Linked DNA regions of Homo sapiens: regions 2, 3 and 4 are each linked to region 1. Evidence: fine-mapped expression QTL. A gene starts in region 1. Each other region holds a variant in brackets. All regions are shown on one strand. Distances are from middle to middle. Region 1 holds the start of MAN1A2 (mannosidase alpha class 1A member 2). Region 2 overlaps MAN1A2 (mannosidase alpha class 1A member 2). Region 3 has its middle 33 kb from the start of LINC01525. Region 4 overlaps MAN1A2 (mannosidase alpha class 1A member 2).

The links. PIP is the estimated chance that this variant, and not a neighbour inherited with it, causes the effect. A credible set is the group of variants that fine-mapping cannot tell apart.
Region 2: its variant is the best candidate, but not a certain one, in a credible set for the expression of MAN1A2 in unexposed skin (GTEx, PIP 0.80).
Region 3: its variant is the best candidate, but not a certain one, in a credible set for the expression of MAN1A2 in whole blood (TOPMed, PIP 0.80).
Region 4: its variant is the best candidate, but not a certain one, in a credible set for the expression of MAN1A2 in whole blood (INTERVAL, PIP 0.64).

Annotation. Positions count from the first base shown.
Region 1 is chr1:117,364,833-117,369,832 of GRCh38, forward strand. MAN1A2 (mannosidase alpha class 1A member 2) reads left to right here and starts at 2,617. Exons shown (of 13, transcript NM_006699.5): 1 at 2,617-3,653. The coding sequence starts at 3,352. RefSeq lists a silencer at 1,853-2,672 and an enhancer at 3,543-3,682.
Region 2 is chr1:117,467,614-117,472,949 of GRCh38, forward strand. The region is part of intron 8 of MAN1A2 (mannosidase alpha class 1A member 2); the gene reads left to right. Among named protein-coding and RNA genes, the nearest start is that of MAN1A2, 100 kb to the left of the region's middle. The variant G/A (reference allele first, on the strand shown) is at 3,087.
Region 3 is chr1:117,325,895-117,331,230 of GRCh38, forward strand. No RefSeq gene overlaps it. Among named protein-coding and RNA genes, the nearest start is that of LINC01525, 33 kb to the left of the region's middle. The variant T/C (reference allele first, on the strand shown) is at 2,614.
Region 4 is chr1:117,394,314-117,399,649 of GRCh38, forward strand. The region is part of intron 1 of MAN1A2 (mannosidase alpha class 1A member 2); the gene reads left to right. Among named protein-coding and RNA genes, the nearest start is that of MAN1A2, 30 kb to the left of the region's middle. The variant G/C (reference allele first, on the strand shown) is at 2,333.

The DNA of each region.
Region 1 (5,000 bases):
TGTGTTCATCTTGATACTACCGAGTCTACCTATTTGAAATTTGACCTTAACTTTTTCAGGCACCAGTTCCTTTATAATTTTTATTTAATTGTAAATATAATGCAACAGAATACAATGGAGAAAATCATACGTAAAACCAGTATCTTAACAGAATAGTTGCAATCTTTTTCAAATATTCTTTTTCTATGTTTTTAAGTGCATATAATTATAATTAATGGATACATTTGCAACTTTTTTTTTTTTAAACAACATGATTCTTTAAAAACTCAGACTTGCCTTTAGAAGAGTGGATATATGTAATACTATGTATACAGTATTTTCATTGCTGGTGTAGGAGTGTGATAACTGACGGTATCATCAATGACTTTAAAATTGCTGGCTGCATTTGGACATCTGCAATAACCCCTAAATTGTTTTTACTCTCATGAAGGAAAAATGAATTTTGCAAAACAGACAAGCAAAGGAAAAGGGGTCTTCTCCATCAGCAATGAGGTCTTACTTGCTTAAGCTATACTTGTCAACTAGGTTATGTCAGGTTTCATGATTGAAATCTCTTGTGGTTAAGTCTAGTGTTAACCTAGGTAATATTTATTTTTCAAGATTTATATAACTTGCTATTTCATTCAGAGTTCAGTATTTATTTCCCCTGAACTTTTCATGGAAACTAATGATCTCAACAGTAGGAAAACAGTGTGTTCTTCCCCGCCTCCCCACCGCCCCCCCCACTTTGGCTTACGGAGTCTCAACATTAGAGACTTATTCTTAAATTTGGCACATTTTATAAAGACATATTGGGAAGGCTAAAAGTTTCTTATATCTACTCTTCACAAATGTTCAACATAAATCTCACTAGGGACCGGGCACTCCTTGCTTACCAGTCTCCCTGGGTGAACTGGTGAGAGGTGGCCCTCAATATTTTTACTTTTTATTTGGTGAAGCAGGATCAATGACAATGACTTTTGTCATGTGGTAGGCAGTTAGATATGCAGAGCTTCTAGAAATAATGCAGACTGGGAGACTGGAATGTAGTTACAAGTGTGCCAATGAACATGAGACTTTTCTGCTTGATTTTTAAGCTAAGGCTGACTTACTCTCCTGACATTTAAGGGCCTCCTCTCCAATTCCCAGTCATCAGTAAAGGATGTGTACAGGGAATGACAATATTAGAACAAAAACAACCTGCAAGTAAATCGGATGCAAGAGTCTATGTATCTTGCAAGGAAATCTTTTGCACTTAATCACAACATGGCTCTCCTCAATACTACGGAGAACAGAATTGATTCAGATTGTTTTTAAGCCTGAACGTAAACAATATTGTCGCCTTTTTGGGTTTCAGCACCTCCTTATTCATCCATTTTCTCTTTTATGGGAAGGGGGTTGATGAGGTGTGTGAAGATGATAGAACGTGCCCCAGAAACTGAACAATGAAGAGACGCCTGTCATATCGGGGGTACCTAGATTCCTCTGAAAGGAAGCCCAGCTGAAGGAGCAGGGTCACCACTTTATTTTAAAAACGTAACATGGCACATGTTGGTGCTCTATTAATCGAGCCTCGGGGGCCCAATAACGTGAGCATGGGCTGCTGCGTGGAAGTTTGAGACCCTGTTGCTGAATCCTCGGGCCTGACGGTCTATCGCTGAAGACAAGACTTCCAAAGAATCACAGTAAACGTTAACCTAAGCCATCAGAAGCCATTAACTCCGGTGACACTACATTTCAGCGAAACCTTCGCGACCCAACCCCTCGCTCCCTCTCGCCCAAACGCTGGGTCAACCCCACGAACTGGCGGTGGCAAGGCCCTGGGCACCGGTGAAGTTCTCGTGGCAGCGCAGATCGGCGACCTTCTCTTCTTTCGCGCTCAGACGGCGGCGGCAGCAGTACGCTTTCGGGCTGCTGGAGCCGGCAGCGGCGCGAGGCCGGAGCCCGGGCAGCCAGGCTGGGTGGGGGAGGGGCGGCGGCAGCGGAGCCGGGAGCGTGCGCGCGCACCTCACACTCCGCCGCCCGGGGACGCCCACTCGCGAGCCGGGGCCGGTAGGCCGGCCCGGGTCCCATCGCCCCCGCCCTCCGGTTCCTCTCCGGCGTGAGCCCAACGGGTGTCGGCCCAGCAGCTGCTGCGCTCACCAGGCCTGGGGAGGCAGGGTACGGGGACCGGGCCGCAGCCCCGAGCGGCGTGGGCGCGCTGCCTCTCTGGCAGCCGCCGCCAGAGCCAGCAGCTGCGAGCCACCGGAGGCGGCGCGGAGGAGGCCCCCGCGGCCGGGCAGGAAGGAGACGCGGCCGACCTCTGCCCGCCCGAGGCGCGGCTGCTCCCGCGCGCCCAGGCCCTCCCGCCGCTCCAGGGCTGAGTGAGGAATGAGCCGGCGCCTACCCCGGGCTCTCGGAGCGTGGGCCCCGGCTCGGCTTCTTAGGCGCGAGGGCTCGGCCACTGCGGCCGGCGGCCTAGCTCGGGGAGCAGGCGCCGGGGTTCACTGAACCGGCCGCGGAGAGGAGGAGGAGGAGGAGGAAGAGGAGGAGGAGGAGGAGGAGGAGCTCGGCGGGGGCGGCCGCCGCGCCTCCCCTCCCCCAGGACACGCCGGGGCTTCTCAGTGGCCGCCGGAGGAGGAAGTTCCGCTCCCTGACAGACCCGTGCGGTAGCAACAGCGGCGGCGGCCGCGGCGGCTGGCCGGACTCAGGTGTTTCGGACGCTATTGCCCTTCGCGCCAGCCGTCGAGTGGGCAGCAGCGGGACTCAGCCGGGCGCCAGGTTCCTGCCAGGCAGCGCCGGGAAGCGCGGGCGGCCGAGAACTCCTTCCTGCTACTTCGCCCAGCGCCGCTGCTTCGGCTTCCCAGCGAAGTGGGAGACCTTCCTCCCTGTTTGCAGACGTCCGTGGGAGACCCTTATTTTTTCCACCGCTAAGGTTAAGAGATTCTGGAATAGAAGCGTCGAAGGAGATCAAGTGAACCTTCTACAACTCCTCGGATGTCGCCAGTCTCCCTTTCGGGGCGGAAGACTACGTTTGAGCATCTCACTGAGGTGCAGGAATGGAAGAACCCACCTTGCAGCTTTTCTGCAGTGTGGCTTGCCTGATCTACCCCTAGGAATGAAGAGGAGGCTTGTAATAATCCGATGAAGTACAGATGTTGAAGAGGATATCGCAGGACCTAAACTTGTGATCGTTTGGGGGAGGTCACACACGTTTCTGAGTGGGAATGGATGGGCGTGAATGACGTGCCCTCTTAAAAAGCACAACAGTCCTTTAAGAGGAGCAAAATTGAGTTTTCCCATTTTGGCCAAGATTTTGAAGACAGTTCAATGTATTCTACATTTGACATAAGATGAGAACTTTCTAAAGTATTCTCTCCAAGAGCGTAAACGATGACTACCCCAGCCCTGCTGCCCCTCTCTGGACGTAGGATACCACCTCTGAACCTGGGGCCGCCTTCCTTCCCACATCACAGGGCTACCTTGAGACTTTCTGAGAAGTTTATTCTTCTCCTTATTCTTAGTGCCTTCATCACTCTGTGTTTTGGGGCATTCTTTTTCCTTCCAGACTCTTCAAAACACAAACGCTTTGATTTGGGTTTAGAAGATGTGTTAATTCCACATGTAGATGCCGGTAAAGGGGCTAAAAACCCCGGAGTCTTCCTGATCCATGGACCCGATGAACATAGACACAGGTTTGTTTATTTCAGAAGTTCTGGTACTAACATTTGGCAGAGCAAGGTACGGTGATTGGATCGAATCTGTCTTTTTTTTTTCTTGCAGTAAAATGTAATTTTTCGAGTCATAAATATTGTATTGTTACTTCAAGACTGGCTGAATAAAACCATAGACTGGAGGGACTCTACCTCCAGTCTATGGTAGAGTCCATAGACTGGTAGGACTGGAGTCCTACCTAAGTCGTTCTTCTCTTCGGTTTTATATAAGAAAAACATTTGCGTTCAGAGTTGTGTCTAATGTGGACATCTGGGAAGGGAGGTATGAAAACTTAACCTAAAGAAATGGTGACATAAGCTGTGCCTGCATTTATTAATAACGTGTTGGAGTCAGTCATTGTGCCACCATGTGAAATCAAAGCATCGAACCTTGACAGCTCTTTTGGGTGTGCTCTCCCAGAGGGCTCTCGTTTTCTGGCTTGTAGTTGAAGCTTAGTAGTGAGTCAGCTTTTTAGGATGACAAACGTGGGCAGAATATACCTGTCATTTCTTAACGTGAAAATATCCTGATTTTTGTTCTTTTTTTGGGGATGTGTGTTGGTGCTGTATATGAAATCAGTTAAGTTAAAAGGTATTGAATCCTAAGTTATTGCACTTTGTGAGGCTTGTAGACAAGATTTATTTTTGTGAAACTTAATTTTGCTCTCTCTTTTAATGTAATAGATGGACTGTGTCAAGCAACTATTGGAATTTGGTTGATTAAGGGGTTCACATTCTTTCAGATCACTAAATCTAAAGTGAGCTCTGGGGAGAGCATAGCCAAACTAGGATAAAATGGGAGCTCTAGTTACAATTTTTATAATTTTTATATTTGTACTCAAGAGTTTGGGAAAGTAGTTGACTTTTCTTAAACCTGCCATCTTTTCCTTGTTTCTTAAAATAATTCTTGAGTATGTGGGAAAAAAAATCATGTGCTTGAATTCATTTCCCATCTGATGATAGTTTTAACTTTTTGTCAAGCACCGAAAAAGCTTAGGTTCACGTGTAAGCCTACATTAAATATTTGGGAAAATGCACTGTTTTATGAGAACTGGTTTTTCTTTTTTTCTCAACCTAGTTAATTCATTACTTGTGTGATGGTTCTTTGACTTTTGGATGAATTTTATGGAGTAGTTACTTCTAATATTGTTTCATGCCATTCTTTTGTAACTAAGTTAATTTGGAATTTTTGCCATTTTCGACTACTGTACTCCTGTATTTGTTTCTTTAATTTTGCACTTTGCTTGTTGTGACTTTAAGAAAACACTAATATGATCTGTGAAATATGTTACTGAAAAATTAACGGTGAAAGTAGTTTTCCTTGAAAAT
Region 2 (5,336 bases), 100 kb after region 1:
TAGACTGAGTGGGAATGATATTTTCTGGAAAAACAAAACCCTGAGAGCTGCATTTCTAAAATGTAAAAACGTAGTTTTCTTATTTCAGATAAGAGTGACTGGATTGGATGTCTACTTAGTAATTTGGATGAATTCTATCAATCATAAATCTTTACCCCTGTGAGTTGTATTGAGATTTGAGAATATTATGATAATATAATGATATAATAATGTATATGAAAAATTATGTTCAGTTCCTGTCTTAGACTATATGCCAGTGTATATTCTATATGGTATTACTATTTAAATGTAAAAGATGAAATCATAAAAGTACTAAAAAAAGGGTTGAATATATAATCAGGAAAGCCTTTTCTAAGCATGTCATGTAAAACAGAAACTACAAAAAAAAGATGTCAGTTTTCCTGTATATTATTGTTAACCTCTGTATTAGTCTGTTCTCATGCTGCTATAAAGAACTGCCTGAGACTGGGTAATTTATAAAGGATAGAGGTTTAATTGACTCACAGTTCCACAGGGCTGGGGAAGCCTCAGAAAACTTACAATCATGGCAGAAGGGGAAGCAAACACATCCTTCTTCACATGGTGGCAGGAAGGAGAAGTGCCAAGCAAGGCGGGGAAAAGCCCCTTATAAAACCATCAGATCTTGTGAGAACTCACTCATTATCAAGAGAACAGCATGGGGGTAACATCTTCCTGTACCCACTCTCCAGAGTGTATATATTTGTATGCTTTTTGAGCCAGCAACTCATTTCCAGCAATTTATTCCAAATAAATTTTCAGAGCTATATATTAAAGTTTATTTACAATAATCTTGGGGTTGTTTATAATAGGGATAATTTGGAAGCAATCTAAAGCAGTTCTATCTAACAGAACTTTCTGTAATGAGGAAAAGATCCTATTATCTGTATTATCCAATACAGTAGTCACTAGCCACATGTGACCATGGAGCACTTGAAATGTTGCTAGTATGGTTGTGGAATTACATATTAAATTTTAATTTAATTAACTTACATTTAATTAGCTACTTGTAGCTAGTGCTTCTACATTGGACAGGGCAGTTTTTAAACGTCTTGTAATAGGGATTTGGTTAAATACATTTTGGCCTGTCCAGATATAGTATACTATGCAGCCATTAAAAGTTATATTTTAGAATACCTGACATAGATAAATGACATATCTAGAAAGATATTTAGAAAAGGAGAGGAAACACTATAGAAATAGAAACCAAAGTGTTATGTGTGGTTTTCTTTGAATTTGTGTTTTTATTTTCTCCTTTTCATTTACTGTTACTATCCAGATTTGATTATGAACATCTATTACTTTTGATGTTAGCTTAAAAACATTTTTAAATAAAAAGAGAATCCCATTTTCCATGCCAGTATAAGGATACTCAGAAAAGTAAATCACAGTTTGAGAATTGCCAGCCTTAAAATGATCAAAAGTACAACATTGATGACATGGAGGCAGGAGAGTCACTTGAACCCAGGAGGTGGAGGTTGCAGTGAACCGAGATTGTGCCACTGCACTCCAGCCTGGGTGACAGAGCGAGACCCTCTCTCAAAAAACAAAATAAAACAAAACCAAATCCAAAAAACAGAACTCTTTCTCTTCAACGTTGTGTTGAGAAAACTGGATAGCCATGTGAAAAATAATGAAGTTGAACCCTTACTCTATATTATCTACAAAAATTAACTCAAAACAGATCAAAGACTCTAAATTTGAGAACCAAAACTGTAAAACTCTTAGAAGAAAACATAGGGGAAAATCTTCGTGACCTTTGATTTGACACTGGATTCTTCAATATGACACCAAAGGCACAGGTAACAATACAAAAATAAAAGATAAATTGGATTTGATTAAAATTGAAAATTTTTGTGCATCAAAGCATACTATCTATGAGAAAGAAAGACGACCCACAGAATGAGAGAAAATATTTGCAAATCACATGTCTTTTAAGGGTCTATACACAGAATATATAAAGAACTCCTACAACTCACTAACAGAAGGCAAACTACCTACAACTCAACAACAGAAGGCGAATCACCAAATTAAATAATGGGTGAGGACTTGAATAGTCATTTCTGCAAAGAAGATATGCAAATGGAAAATAAGTACATGAAAAAGATGGTTAACATTAAAATACAAATAAACTCACTGAGATACCACTTCACAGCTACTAGGAAGACTGTAATCAAAAGGATGAAAAATAAGCATTGGCAAGGATGTGGAGAAGTTGGAACCCTTGTACACTGCTAGTAGGAATGTAAAATGGTGCAGCTGCTGTGAAAACCTAGCAGTTCCTTAAAAAGTTAAACATAGAATTACCATATGACCCAGCACTTCATCTCCTCTGTATATACCCAGAAGATTTGAAAACAGAGACTCAAACAGATACTTGTAGCCTAGTGTTCATTACATTATTTATGATATCCAAAAGGAGAAAGTAACTCAAATGTCCAACAGATGAATGGGTAAACAATATGTGAGTATAAACATACAATGGACTATTACTCAGCCATAAAAAGGAATGGAGTTCTGATACATGCTATAATATAAACAAACCTTGAAAACATTATGCTAATCAACAAAAGCCAGTCACAAAAGGACAAATATTGTATGATTCCACTTATATCAAATATCTAGAGTTGTCAAATCCATAGAGACAGAAAGTAGATTAGAGTTGACCAGAGGCTTTGGATGAGAAGAAAGTGGAGAAGAAAATGGAGAGTTATTGCTAGAGTTTGTATTTGCAGTGATGAAAATTTTTGGAAATAGGTAGTGGTGATGGTTTTACAGCACTGTGAATATAATTAATGCTGCTGAATGGTACACTTTCAAAATAGTTAAAATGGCAACTTTTGTGTTATATACATTTCATCACAATAAAATTTACAACAAAAAAGATAACTTTTATTCCTCTGTTTTTTCCTCACAAAATAAATTCAAATTACTTTATAATATATTCACTCTCAGCAGTTTTTAATTTCAGTGTTATAGAAAGAGCTATTCACTGGTTATTTTGGCAGAAGATCTTTAAAATCCTAGCGAGCTGCCCTGATATCCTTTTAGCAGCTGTAGTCCTTACA[G/A]AATTGTCCAATTTGTTCCTTTTAATGTTTTTGTATATTTTATATCAGCCTCTGAAAAGTATATCAAATTTTATTATTATCTTTGAGCTATATGCATCTGTCATATTTATAAATAGTCTGCAAAACAAACATTTAATTGAACTGAAATTTAACAATTCAGCTTTGGCTAACTGTATTATAATTAGAGTAATGATAATGTCTGTGACATGCACATAGCAATCACAGAAGATAATTACTGGTAATTACCTTCAGGAAAAGTGCTTGGCAACAGATGTAAAAGAATATAGCAAGAAACCTAGATTTAAAGGCAAATTACTAGTTTTTTTTTCTTTTCTAAAACTTTTTTTTTTGCTAGTTTTCTAAGCACAATACTTAGCCTATGTCATTTAATGATTAAAGTGAAGAAAATATAGGAAATCAGTCATTACTGATTCATTGTTTTATATTACTAAATTTATAATTGTGGAAAAAACAAGAATGGACATGTTATGCCCCTTTGAGTTAGAAAATGAATTGATTGTCTTGCTTAATAATTTAGATAATTTATTTAACTTCTCTATGCATCTTTATCTGTTCTCATTGTACTTATTTAATAGAAAATTCATGTGGATCATATTTATAATATGTTTGAAAATGCTTCAAATTAGTTTTTATTCTAGAATTTCCCATAAGAAGACTTCAAGAAATAGCTTCTGTTAGAAACCTGCCATTAACTGTATAACATGTTGAAATAAATCATATGAATCATTGCTATTTAGGAGTATTTTATAATATGTTAATCAATTTCTGAATATCAAAAGGACCTTAGAGTGACATGGTTTATCAAATTTGACATGTAGGCATATAATCTACAGGAAAGAGAAGTAGCTTCAAGTTCCTTAGTGGTATCCTTTTGCTTTAATGTAATTTCAGATGTTCTGTAAAGCAAGATGGACAGAATTCTCACTTGAGAAGGTTTTTTTTTTGTTTGTATATTTTGTTTTTATTGAAGATAATTGACAAGAAAATGTAAATTCTCTGTTCAATAATAAGGTTAATTTTGTTTTAATATGATTTGTTATTATAACATTTCTAATTCACATTCTTCCTTTTGCACTCAGTGAATATATATACTCTGTTAAAAGTTAAACAAGGCATATACCATAAGGTGTCATATTCAGATACTGAGAAGAAACCGGATCAGGTTTTGAGAAAACTAATGAAGGAACAAGATTAGTTTTATTCTGTTAAAACTGTCTATAAAATACATTGTAATAAATAGGCTAAATTAGGAAAAGGAAAGGCTTACAGCAGAAGGACATACTAGAAAGCTAATATAATACGGATCTGGATCTAGGATAGCTGTCTGTGGGAGTGGTAGTCATCATAGATTTTATCTTTCCCTTTGTATCCTACATTCATTCTTCACTAAGTCTTGTCAGTTCTGACTATTTCTGAAATATTCGTTTCCCCATTTTAACTGCACCTTTTTCCGTTTGGAATACCTTCCGCCTTCTCTATGTCCTCTTATCAATAAATTCCTACCTATTCAATGAAAACAGAAAAGGAAAATCCTAAGTTAAATAAACTATTCAAATATAGTAATCTCTCTTGCAACCACCTGTTAGGGAAAAGGAAAAATATTAGGGTATATATATAAATACCCATTAAAAGATTAATATCAATTTTATGTGTGATAGTATTATAGGAATATATTTTCTCTACAGGATGTTTGCATTCACTAATTTCACTGATACTAAATATCAACCACTGTTCCAGATGCTAGGTATATAGATGTGAACAAGTAGACAGTGTCCCTAATACCCTTGGAGAACTTACATTCTGCTGGAGAGATATGAAATAAACAAATACATGATGTGATGTAATATAATGGTAAGAATTTCTTTTTTCTTAAAGCACTTTTAGTTTCTAGGACAATACATTCTTTTGCTTTTCTCATAGCCTTACTTAGCTTCATGCTTCACTCAGTCTTTTTATTATTATTATTAGTTTTCTCCTTTTCTCCTAGCCTCTTAGTGTTGGAATGCCTTAGAGCAAGCTTGCCCAACCCAGGGCACTGGATGGCTTTGAATGCAGCCCAACACGAATTGATAAACTTTCTTAAAACATGAGATTTTTTTTTTTACAATTTTTAAAAAGCTCATCAGCTATCATTAGCGTTAGTGTATTTTATGTGTGGCTCAAGACAGTGCTTCCAGTGTGGCCCAGGAAAGCCAAAAGATTGGTGGACAACCCTGCTGTAGAGGTCAG
Region 3 (5,336 bases), 39 kb before region 1:
CAAAATATGTAGGAAGAGAGAAAAACAAAGAGCAGACTCTTTTATGAGTGATTTTCAGCATGTCATTAGGTATTTTTATACTTCTAAAATATTTTCTAAACTGTCTACAATAAGCAAGTATGATCTTATGAAACTATTAATTTTCAAAAAGAATATATTACTTTAAAATAAATACCTTCAATAGGCTGGGCGTGGTGGCTCATGCTTGTAATCTCAGCACTTTGGGAAGCCAAGGTGTGTGGATCACCTGAGGTCAGGAGTTCAAGACCAGCCTGGACAACATGGCAAAACCTTATCTCTACTAAAAATACAAAAATTAGCTGGGCGTGGGTGCGTGCCTGTAATCCCAGCTACTCAGGAGGCTGACGCAGGAGAATCGCTTGAACCTGGGAGGCAGAGGTTGCAGTGAGCCAAGATTGTGCACTGCACTCCAGCCTGGGTGACAGAGCAAAACTCTGTCTCAAAAAATAAAAATAAGGGGCCAGGGGTGGTGGCTCAAGCCTGTAATCCCAGCACTTTGGGAGGCTGAGGCAGGCGGATCACGAGGTCAGGAGATCGAGACCATCCTGGCTAGCATGATGAAACCCTGTCTCTACTAAAAATACAAAAAATTAGCCGGGCGTGGTGGCAGGCACCTGTAGTCCCAGCTACTCGGGAGGCTGAGATAGGAGAATGGCGTGAACCCGGGAGGCGGAGCTTGCAGTGAGCCAAGATCACGCCACTGCACTCCAGCCTGGGCGACAGAGCGAGACTCCATCTCAAAAAAATAAATAAATAAAAATAAAAATAAATAAATAAACATCACTGATACATTTATTTGCATGTATAGTGTATTTCACAATATAATTTTTAAAAACATGACTTTGGATCATATTTTTTAAAAAGACAAAATATACGCAAAGTTTTGAGAAACTATGATCCATGTGGAGGTCAGGGGTGTGTCGGTCCTCATATAGACAGGGTGGAATAATTGTAACTACACTAAGGAGTTGTCCATCAACTGTCCATGTGGAAGGAGGCAGTGGCAGGGTAAAATCTGGAGTCAGCTTTTAAATTTCTGTCAGCGAAGCTTGACCTTGTTTCATTAGTGCAGGAGACTGTTTGTAGATAGTGGCTTCCTGAATTTTACAGACAAGCCTCATGATGAGAAAAGAACTGAAATTACAGATGATGAGATAGATATTTAATAGACAAGAACAGCTGATATGTAGAAAGTGGGATGCTGAGTCATAAGTTAAAATGCATAATTTAATTATTAGAGATAATCAGTAAATCTTTACATCCAGGAACAGAATAAAATACAAATTACATAGTCAGCACAATTCAGGGCTTACAAGCTATGAGACTAAAGCAAAATAACAAAAAATGGCAGCTAAGTTAATTGACCATTTCCATTTTATTAATTGGAGAATGATATGGCAATCATTTAAATGGAAAAGAACCATATTTTGTGGAAAATACATATTAACCATTCCAGATACTTTCTTCAGTAAAATATTTTCTTCCTGTTATCAGAGTATTTTTATTATTGGTGCTCTTAATATTTAAAAAGTATGCGATATCTCTGGCCCTTAATTTTCTCATCTGTAAAATAAGGGTGTTGGGGCACTAGTTTTAGTACTTCATTCTATGAGAGTGGTACTGCAAAATTTTCACAAATGTTTTATTCCATTTCATGGAAGCTGATGTTGACAAAGACTGTGATCGTTATCCATATTCCTGGATTTCAGTTTCTGTTTCTCAAACAGCCTTATTGATCTTATTGATAAGCCTTACAATTAACAAATAGTATACATTCAAGCTTATAAAATAAATGTATTCTGATGTTTCAGAATGGTTTTACTTGTTGAGTTCTTTATAAGATTTTGTTGGGGGAAACATGGTTTTATTGCTTACACAACAACAACAACAAAATTGGAAAGGATTGAGCTTCAAGGTTTGCCTGGCACTCAGACTCTGAGAGTATATACAAGCAGCATTCCTAAGCTTGTAGGTCCAAGAAGTAGTAGATGCAGGCTTTGCCCTAACCTCGCTCATCACCTCGAAATAATACCCTTGAAGGACTAGGGCCCATTTCCCCACACCACTTTCCACTTTAAAATGTCACTCAAAGGATCTAACGGTCTCTTTGCCCTTTTTGAACTGTCCCACAAGGGAAGAAGATCATGCTATATCTTTAGGTGAAAAAAGCAAACTACAAGGAAATATGAATACTTCCATCTATTTTATAAAAAAAAATGTAGCTGAATCTAGACAGATAAGTGCTAGAAAGATATAGATTGTGTTACCTTTATAGATGCACTAGGTGCTATATGAAGCGCTCTTTTTTTAAACTCATGTTTTGTCCTCAGTCTCTCAAATGAGGCAGATATTATTATCATCTTCATTTTACAGATGAGGAAACTGATGCATAGCAATTATTTATAAAACTTACCTTACAAATGCATAGAAAAAAATTCTGGAAGCATTTACTCTAAAAGTTGTAAGACTATGTGTGATGTTTGCTCTTTTGCCTGTGTATAATTTCTAAAAAGAGTTTGTATCACTTATGTAACAAAGTGAACGGGGAGACTGTCAGTTCCCACGTTCGCGGGGAGACTGTCAGTTCCCATG[T/C]TCATTTTCCCATGTTCTCATTTGGCGTGTGAGCAGTGGAGGGCTTGGAATCACAGACCCCGCCCTGCTTGGGAATGGGACAATGATCCGTTAAGATTTGCAGATGGTTTTCTGCTCTGTGTTATATGGGATGGTAGCAATTTTTATTCAATTGGAAGGAAGGGCTGGGTGCAATGGCTCATGCCTACAATTTCAACACTTTGGGAGGCTGAGGCAGGAGGATCGCTTGAGCTCAGGAGTTCAAGACCAGCCTGAGCAACAAAGTGAGACCTCCGTCTTTCCAAACATTTAAAAATTAGCTGGGCATAGTTGTGCCTGGCTGTGGTCCCAGCTGCTTGGGAGGCTGAGGTGGGAGGATTTCTTGAGTCTAGGAGGTCAAGGAAGTCAAGGCTGCAGTGAGCCGGGATCATGCCACTGCACTTCAACCTGGGCAACAGAGCAAGACCATGTCAAAAACAAACAAACAAAAAAACCATTGGCAAGAAGAAGTGGTTACAATAATTTGGAAAGAACCCTTGCTCTAGGCCGCTTGCATTTTATTAAGGGTGAGTCTTCAACCTTCCCTAGCAGGCTAGGATTATTCTGTCAGAGCCAAACCCCAGATAAGTCAGGCTTGCAGAAAATGTGTATTCATCTACCTGGTTCTATGAGAACCAGGGAACTAGTGCTAGCTCATGCCACTATTCTATTGAACTGCTTATTTTTGGTTTGTGTTATTAATATGCATTGTTTAACTTCTTCAATGAGATTATAAATTCCTGGGTGGAAGTGATGCTCTGGGAAATACCTCTTCATTTTTCCCAGAATGGATTAAACATAAAAAGTACACTTTTTATGGTACTTGAATGAAATGGAATCAAATATATATATATATATAAATAAAATGGTAGATTTTGGCAATTTGGGGTATTTATTTTCTGTAACAAATAAATCAATAAACAAAAAATGGAAGTGTCTTCCCTTTCCCTTCCCTTCCTTTTCCTTTCCCTTCCCTTCTTCTTTCTCTTCCCTTCTCCTTTCTGAGCAATTCCATCCTAAATCCATTGTATGGAGCAGAGAAAGGTAGACATCCATTCAGATGGGTGGCCTGGTGTGGGATGTCAGAGCCCAGATGGGATGGGGGCTCTACTCAGGGACAGGGGCAGCAATGATGATAAGATATTGGCTATATACAGGGGATTTGATCTAATAAAAAAATTAAAAATAATGGGAACTAAGGTTCTCGTTGTAGAAGAGAGTTAGAAATAAGGAAAGGGAGAAAACTAGAATGAACACTGTGGTGTTGAATTGATATTGGAGATACCAGTGTGAACTCATGGATTTCAGTAAATATATGTAAATATGGAAATAAATTCAGATGTAAATGTGTTTATGTATATCTTTGTCAATACGTGTGTGTCTGTGTGTGTCTATCTGTGTGTATATTCCTTACCTAAATACTTTTCTTTGTTGTGTTTTCAATTCCACATTTAATTCATCTGGGATTTATTTTTATGTGCAGTATGAGATGGGTGCCACATTTTTTTGACCAAATAGCCAGCCAATTTTCCCAACACTGTTTATTAAACAATTCACCTATCTTCATTGATCTGAGATGCTTCCATTCTGATATGCACATATTAGGTTGACTGTAAACATCTTAGAAAAGCAACATTGATCTTGTTAATGATGGAGCAATGCTGACACATCTCCATTTCTCCTGCTCTAACATCTTGGGCATCAATAGCCTATTTCCAACTGAGTGTTCAAAAGACATCCTTAAGGTCAACATTTCCCAAACTAAACTGATCCCATTTGTCTTCATGAATTCCTGACCTCAGAAAACAACATCATCAGCAGCCTAACTGCCCAGTGATCTTTCAACTACTCTGACCCTGTCCTCCCCTCTCACTGTTAAATCTCTTCCTTCTTTCCCTATTCTCTGCAACTCCTGAGTTTGGACTTTTCTCATGAGCTATTATGATTATATTATATTTGTTTCCAATGTAATATTGAAAATCTTTCAAAAATTGAAAGAATCCATGAGAAAATAAAGCATTTGGCCTGTTTGACAGTCAGGGCTGATTTGAAGAATCTGAGTGACCAGATCCCATCTAATCTACCTTTCACACTGATTTCTGAATAATAAATAGAAATAATAAGTAAATAAATATAATATAGTCATATGGGCCTGTGCCTGTGATTCTGCAACTCAAAAACCTTCAAGTCTGTGTGTTGTCTTAAACACCATAGCTGAACATTCAAGGTCACTGGGGTTGACCTTCTAGATGTTCTTTCTTCTGCCTGACTTGCACTTTCATCACTTGTATTAAGCTCCGGTCCTGGAACATGCCAAATATTTTCCCAATTTTGTACTTTTTTGCCTTGCATGGAAAGCTGCCCCTTTCCCCTCTATCAAAAATTGTATTATCTTTTAAGGTCCAGCTTAAACACAGCCCTCTTCCATAAAGTGTTTCCCTAATCCTCCAGCTGGAATTATTACTTACCACCTGTTTTCAAAGCACTATGTTTGTGCTGTATTGTATTATGTGTTTCATTATGCTTAGTATGGAAGTGCTATAACCTTGGTTTTCAGATCCAGATTTTAGCCCCTGAAGCCAGGACTGCATCTTTGTTACCTCTGACCACTGCCTGCAGCTAGCAGTTTTAGTACACTCACTTTGGCACCTAGCTAAGTGCTCTTACCCCTCTCCTCCTCTTCCCTTCCCTTCCATATTGATTTA
Region 4 (5,336 bases), 30 kb after region 1:
CCTCGTGATCCGCCCGCCTCGGCCTCCCAAAGTGCTGGGATTACAGGGGTGAGCCACTGCGCCTGGCCTTCATTTTCTCTTTTTATGTTGCTGGCTAGGACTTCTAGTACAATCAAATTGAAGCCGTGATAGTGAGCATCCTTACTTGTTTCCCTCACTTTGAGAGAGAATTACTTTTGTAGTTTATCAAGAATGTGATTTGCTGTAGTTTTTGGAGATATCTTTTATTAGGTTGAAGAAGTTCTCTTTTTCTCCATTCACTTTCTTCTTCTGTTTCTACTGAATGAGTGTAAGAGCAGAAGTGACCAAAAGGCTGGAACACTGTACTTTTGAGGGTACATTGAAGATGATAAAGCCAATGATCAGAGGCCTGTTGGTAAAGCAGGTTTGAGGAAGAGGGAGCTTCAAAGGAAGGATCAATTTTTAACAGTGGTGGATAGAAGAGTGATGTAAAGTGTAGGAAGTGGAAACAGCAAGTGTAGTACTGTTTGAAAAAGTAAAGTGAAGGAAGGAGAACACCAATGAAGGTTGAAGTGGAGGCAGTTTTGAGGGGAGTTTTTATTTATTTTTTAAGGACGGGTGAAACTTCATATTTGTAAGTAAAGGTTAAAGCTCCAGTAGAGAAGGAAAGAGTGAATATAAAGGAAAATTTCTGCCAACCAAAATTCCAGCGTAATTTTATGTATCCCTATGTAAATTAGAATCATCCAGAATGCTTCCAAACATGATTCAAGAGCCACAGCGGCTTAAGCAAGATAGAAGTTAATTTCTGTTCACACGTATGAATTCTGCAGGACAGTTTCAATAAGAGAGGCTGAGAAATAGAGTTTTTATTTAGCAGGATCATGGGTCTAGCCAAAACTTGAGGGCTCTAGGACTAAGGAGGAAGAAAGAAAAGATTTTGGGAGACAGTTTTCAGTATCTGCACAGTAAGTGTGAGAAAACTCTTAAATAAAATTTATCTCTCTCAGTATTTGCATAGTGTTTAAGAAGTCAAAATGCATTTGTTTATATCTAGACTCTACTTACTAGCTCCTTGACCCTGAACAAACTATTTTTCTCTTTGTGCCTTAATTTTTTCATAACAAGGTAGAGAATAATGGTGTTTGATAGAGAGTACCTCATAAGTTGGTATGATAATTAAATAAGATAATATATGTAATTGATGAAGCCATTGCCTTGTACATCTAAGCCACAATTACTAGTTTTGTTGTCATTTGCCCTTGCTCTTCAAGGATCAGGGATGTGTTGAAGGACAAAACACAAAAAAACAAAATAATATAACAAAAACAACAAACAAAACCTTATATTACTTATGGGATATCCAAAAGTTAATTAAATATTACACATTAAGATACAATTGAAAAGAGTAACTTCAAATCTCATGAGAACTTGTAGATATAAAACTAGATTTTTTTGGAAACCTTGGAAGGTACTCAGCCAAACTGCAAAGTTTGAGGACACAGTTCTTCACATGACCACTCTCACATCTGGCACCACTTGCAAATTCAGAGGGCTCCCCAGACCACCCTCTGGCTTGATAATTTGCAAGGACTCACAAAGGGATTACAGATTACAGGGATCCAGATTAAAATCAGCCAAGGGAAGAAACACATAGGGTGAAGTCAGGAAAGTTCCAAATGTTGATCTGCCAGTGTCCTTTTCCCATGGAGTCAGGACATGTTCTTCCAGCACCAATGTGTGACAGTATGCATGATTGCCAACCTGGTAACCTCATCCAAGCTTCAGTGTATAGAGTTTTATGGGGCTTCATTATGTAGGCATCATTGATTGATTACTCAATTACCTGTATGGTTGAACTCAGTCTCCCAATGGACTGATACTGTGTAACCCAGAGCCTTGTCCTAAGCCATATTGTTGGTGTTTATGACATGGCCAGCTTTTGCTTTAAAACTATTAGTTGTGGCCAACCCTACCTGAAGATCTGGTATGGCCAGCACCCATAATAAACAAGCACACTTCTATCAACTATGACACATTACCTCCCAGAAGCTGAAGTCAATGGTGAGACTTCTCTTTGGACAAGGCCAAATTCTTTACTACACAGGAAGATACAAGACACTGATGAAAAGGAATGATCTTTACAAATGAAAGTCTAACATAATTATCTGTTGAAAATACCAAAGTTAAAAACAATCTTAAAAATATGTATATAAGAGAAAGATCATCCAAGTGAAAATAAAACCCCCAGCTGGAGTAATTTAAAAATCTAGAAATTTGGCTGCCAAAGCAAAATTTGAGGAACCATTTGCATGGAGATCAAAATGAAAATAAAATTTTGAGTCATATAGAGAAGAAAACTAGCAAGAAA[G/C]TTCATAGTGCTACTAAATAATTATTGTGAAAACTCAAGGAAAAGAAATAAAGCACATTATTTGCTTTGGCAGTTGTAAAGATTGCTGCATTAACTTGTAATTTGGAACAGAGAGGTTAGAAGGATTGAAATTATTGACTTACATGTGTATAGAACATTACTTTTTACTTGATTCCAAGGTAAGTACAAGGAAGTACTTAGCAAAAAAGGGTTATAGTGCTTTTAAAGTGGTATAGTCAGGGTAGTGTATGTTTTCCTATCTCTGTTAATGAAGGTACTAATCATAGAGGTTTTTTTTTTTTTTAGTGATTGTTCCAGGTTGTAGTGTGAGGCATGGGCAGAGATGGAACTAAAATCTTTGTCTCCTGACTTTTGGGTTAAGTATACTTTTTTTCTAACTGCAAAATGATTCCTCTTGGAACCCAGTTAATAGGAGGTCTGACTGAATTTCCTGGAACTCTGGAGTTTCTCTTAGGACCAGTCTGGTTAGTCTTTTCTTGCCCTCTAGTTGATATTGGTTCTTCTGAAATAGTTTACTCACTAAACTCTTAAGCAAATAGTGCTTGTTGAGGAACAAATAAAAATAAATCTATAGATTATTTAGATTTTCAAAATGTGTTTGAATAAGGCTCTTCACAATATTGCAACAACATAGGTTCTGATGAGCAAAGTTTGACTGCTGTAACAATAACAAGTGGGATAAGATGATTGGAGCTTTCCTTTAGAGCAAACATTTAGAGGGCTCAATTTTTTATTTTTAAAAATAATTATAAAAATTATTATACATGTTGCTATCAAATGTACTTTGCACCTGTGGAGGAACAACTGATGCTAACACGAAGTTAATAGCAATAGTAAGTGAAAATGGAAAACTGTTACATGGCAGTGTTATTAAGGGGTCTCACCATAACACCTTGTCATTAATTTTAATATGGATTTTAATATTTAATATGCATTTGTATTGCCTACCCTGTAGTCAGAGCCGCTGTTTATAACCCCCTTTTTTTTTTTTTTTTTTTTTGGAGACGTAGTTTCGCTTTTGTTGGCCCAGGCTGGAGTGCAATGTCACGATCTCAGCTTAGTGAAACCTCCGCCTCCCAGGTTCAAGCAATTCTCCTGCCTCAGCCTCCTGAGTAGCTGGGATTACAGGCACCTACCACCATGCCCAGCTAATTTTTGTATGTTTAGTAGAGACGGGGTTTCACCATGTTGGCCAGGCTGGTCTCGAACTCCTGACCTCACGTGATCCACCCGCCTTAGCCTCCCAAAGTGCTGGGATTACAGGTGTGAGCCACCACACCCGGCCTTACAACTCTTTTGACTGTTTGTAGCCTCATGATGGTATATAGACTTTGTATATCATATTTACTTCAGATGGGGTCTTAGAATCTGTATTTGCATTTTAGTATTTTTAAACACCTATTATATGCCAGGTAGTGTCCTAGGCATTGAGGGATATGTTGGAACAAAAATCAGATAGGGTCTCTGAACTTAATGGAGTTAATAGTCATCAGGAGAGACAGGCATTACTCAAAGAATCACATGTGGTTAAGTACTATGAAGGAAAGATACATGGTGCCATCAGACTGTATATTAGGGAGATTTGTCTAATCTAGGAGAAGTTATGATTGATCAGTGACTTGAAGGTAAAGAAGAAATTGTAAGAGTGTTTTAAGCGAGGAAACCTCATGCATATGGGGCTATTGATGGGAAAGAAAATGGTGTGTAAAAGAACTGAAAGAAGGTGGCTGGGCACGGTGGCTCATGCCTGTAATCCCAGCACTTTGGGAGCCTGAGGTGGGTGGATTGCCTGAGCTCAGGAGTTCATGACCAGCCTGGGCAACATGGTGAAACCCCGTTTCTACTAAAATACAAAAAATTAGCCAGGCGTGGTGGCGTGTGCCTGTAGTCCCAGCTTGTTGGGAGGCTGAAGCAGGAGACTCTGTTGAATCTGGGAGGCAGAGGTTGCAGTGAGCCGAGATCGTGCCACTGCACTACAGCCTGGGTGACAGAGGGAGACTCTATTTCAAAAAAAAAAAAAAGAACTGAAAGAAGGTGTGTGGCTGTAGAACAGAGAGCTAGAGGAGTATGTATGAGATGAAGCTTGAGAGATAGATAGAAGCTACATTATACAGAATTTCTTAATAGGCCATAATATAATAGAATTCCTTAGGATAAGGGAAGCCATGAAGTGTTTTAAGTGAGAGTGAGGCATAGTCTGAATAATTTCAGAAAGCACATTGGGTCTATAGTATGGATGGAGAATAGCTTGTGGGTGGGTTGGAGAGTGGTTGGAGAGTGAATGTGTGAAGACTATTGGAAGCGTATTACAGTAGTTTAGGTGAGGCATGATGGTAGCCTCCTTATTGTGGTTCCATCGCATGCTAAAAAGAGTATGCAGAAAAGGAGGACTATGACTAAGTAAGTTCAAGAAGTGTTGTGTTAGGCAACTCTATTGCAGAACTTCTCAGGGCTTTTAAAATGCCCATGTGCGTGGTGAAGCTCTGTGAGGGGATATGGGATGTTTTGTGGCATATATGTCTTGCCCCCCACAGGGTGGACTCTAGAAAATGGTGTGTAATACCTGTTCGTGGAAGCTCACTGGTAGGTGAAGATGCTTTCTGAGTGATAACATATGAGCTATTGCAAACATGGTCGGGGATTCCACATGCCATTTAGCAATAACTTGGGGATAATGTGGTACGTGGAGATAGAAATGGAAAGCTTGTTTTCCTGGGGCAATCTCCCCATTTGTCATCAGGACAGAAAATTACCCTTGAAAGAGCCAGTCTTCCCCATTTGATGTTGCTCTTCTTTGGGGCCCATTTCCAGGTCCTCTGTTTTTCTGAATCTGTGTGCCTGCTTGCACAGTGAGTGGGTGAGTTGGGGAAATTCTCAGCTGGAAATGTCAGAATACCCATTGATAGTTACTCCATAGAATCTGAAATCTGGGGACAATTGAGGGCCGTGGTGGTAACTCATGATAGCAAGCACTTTCCCTCTT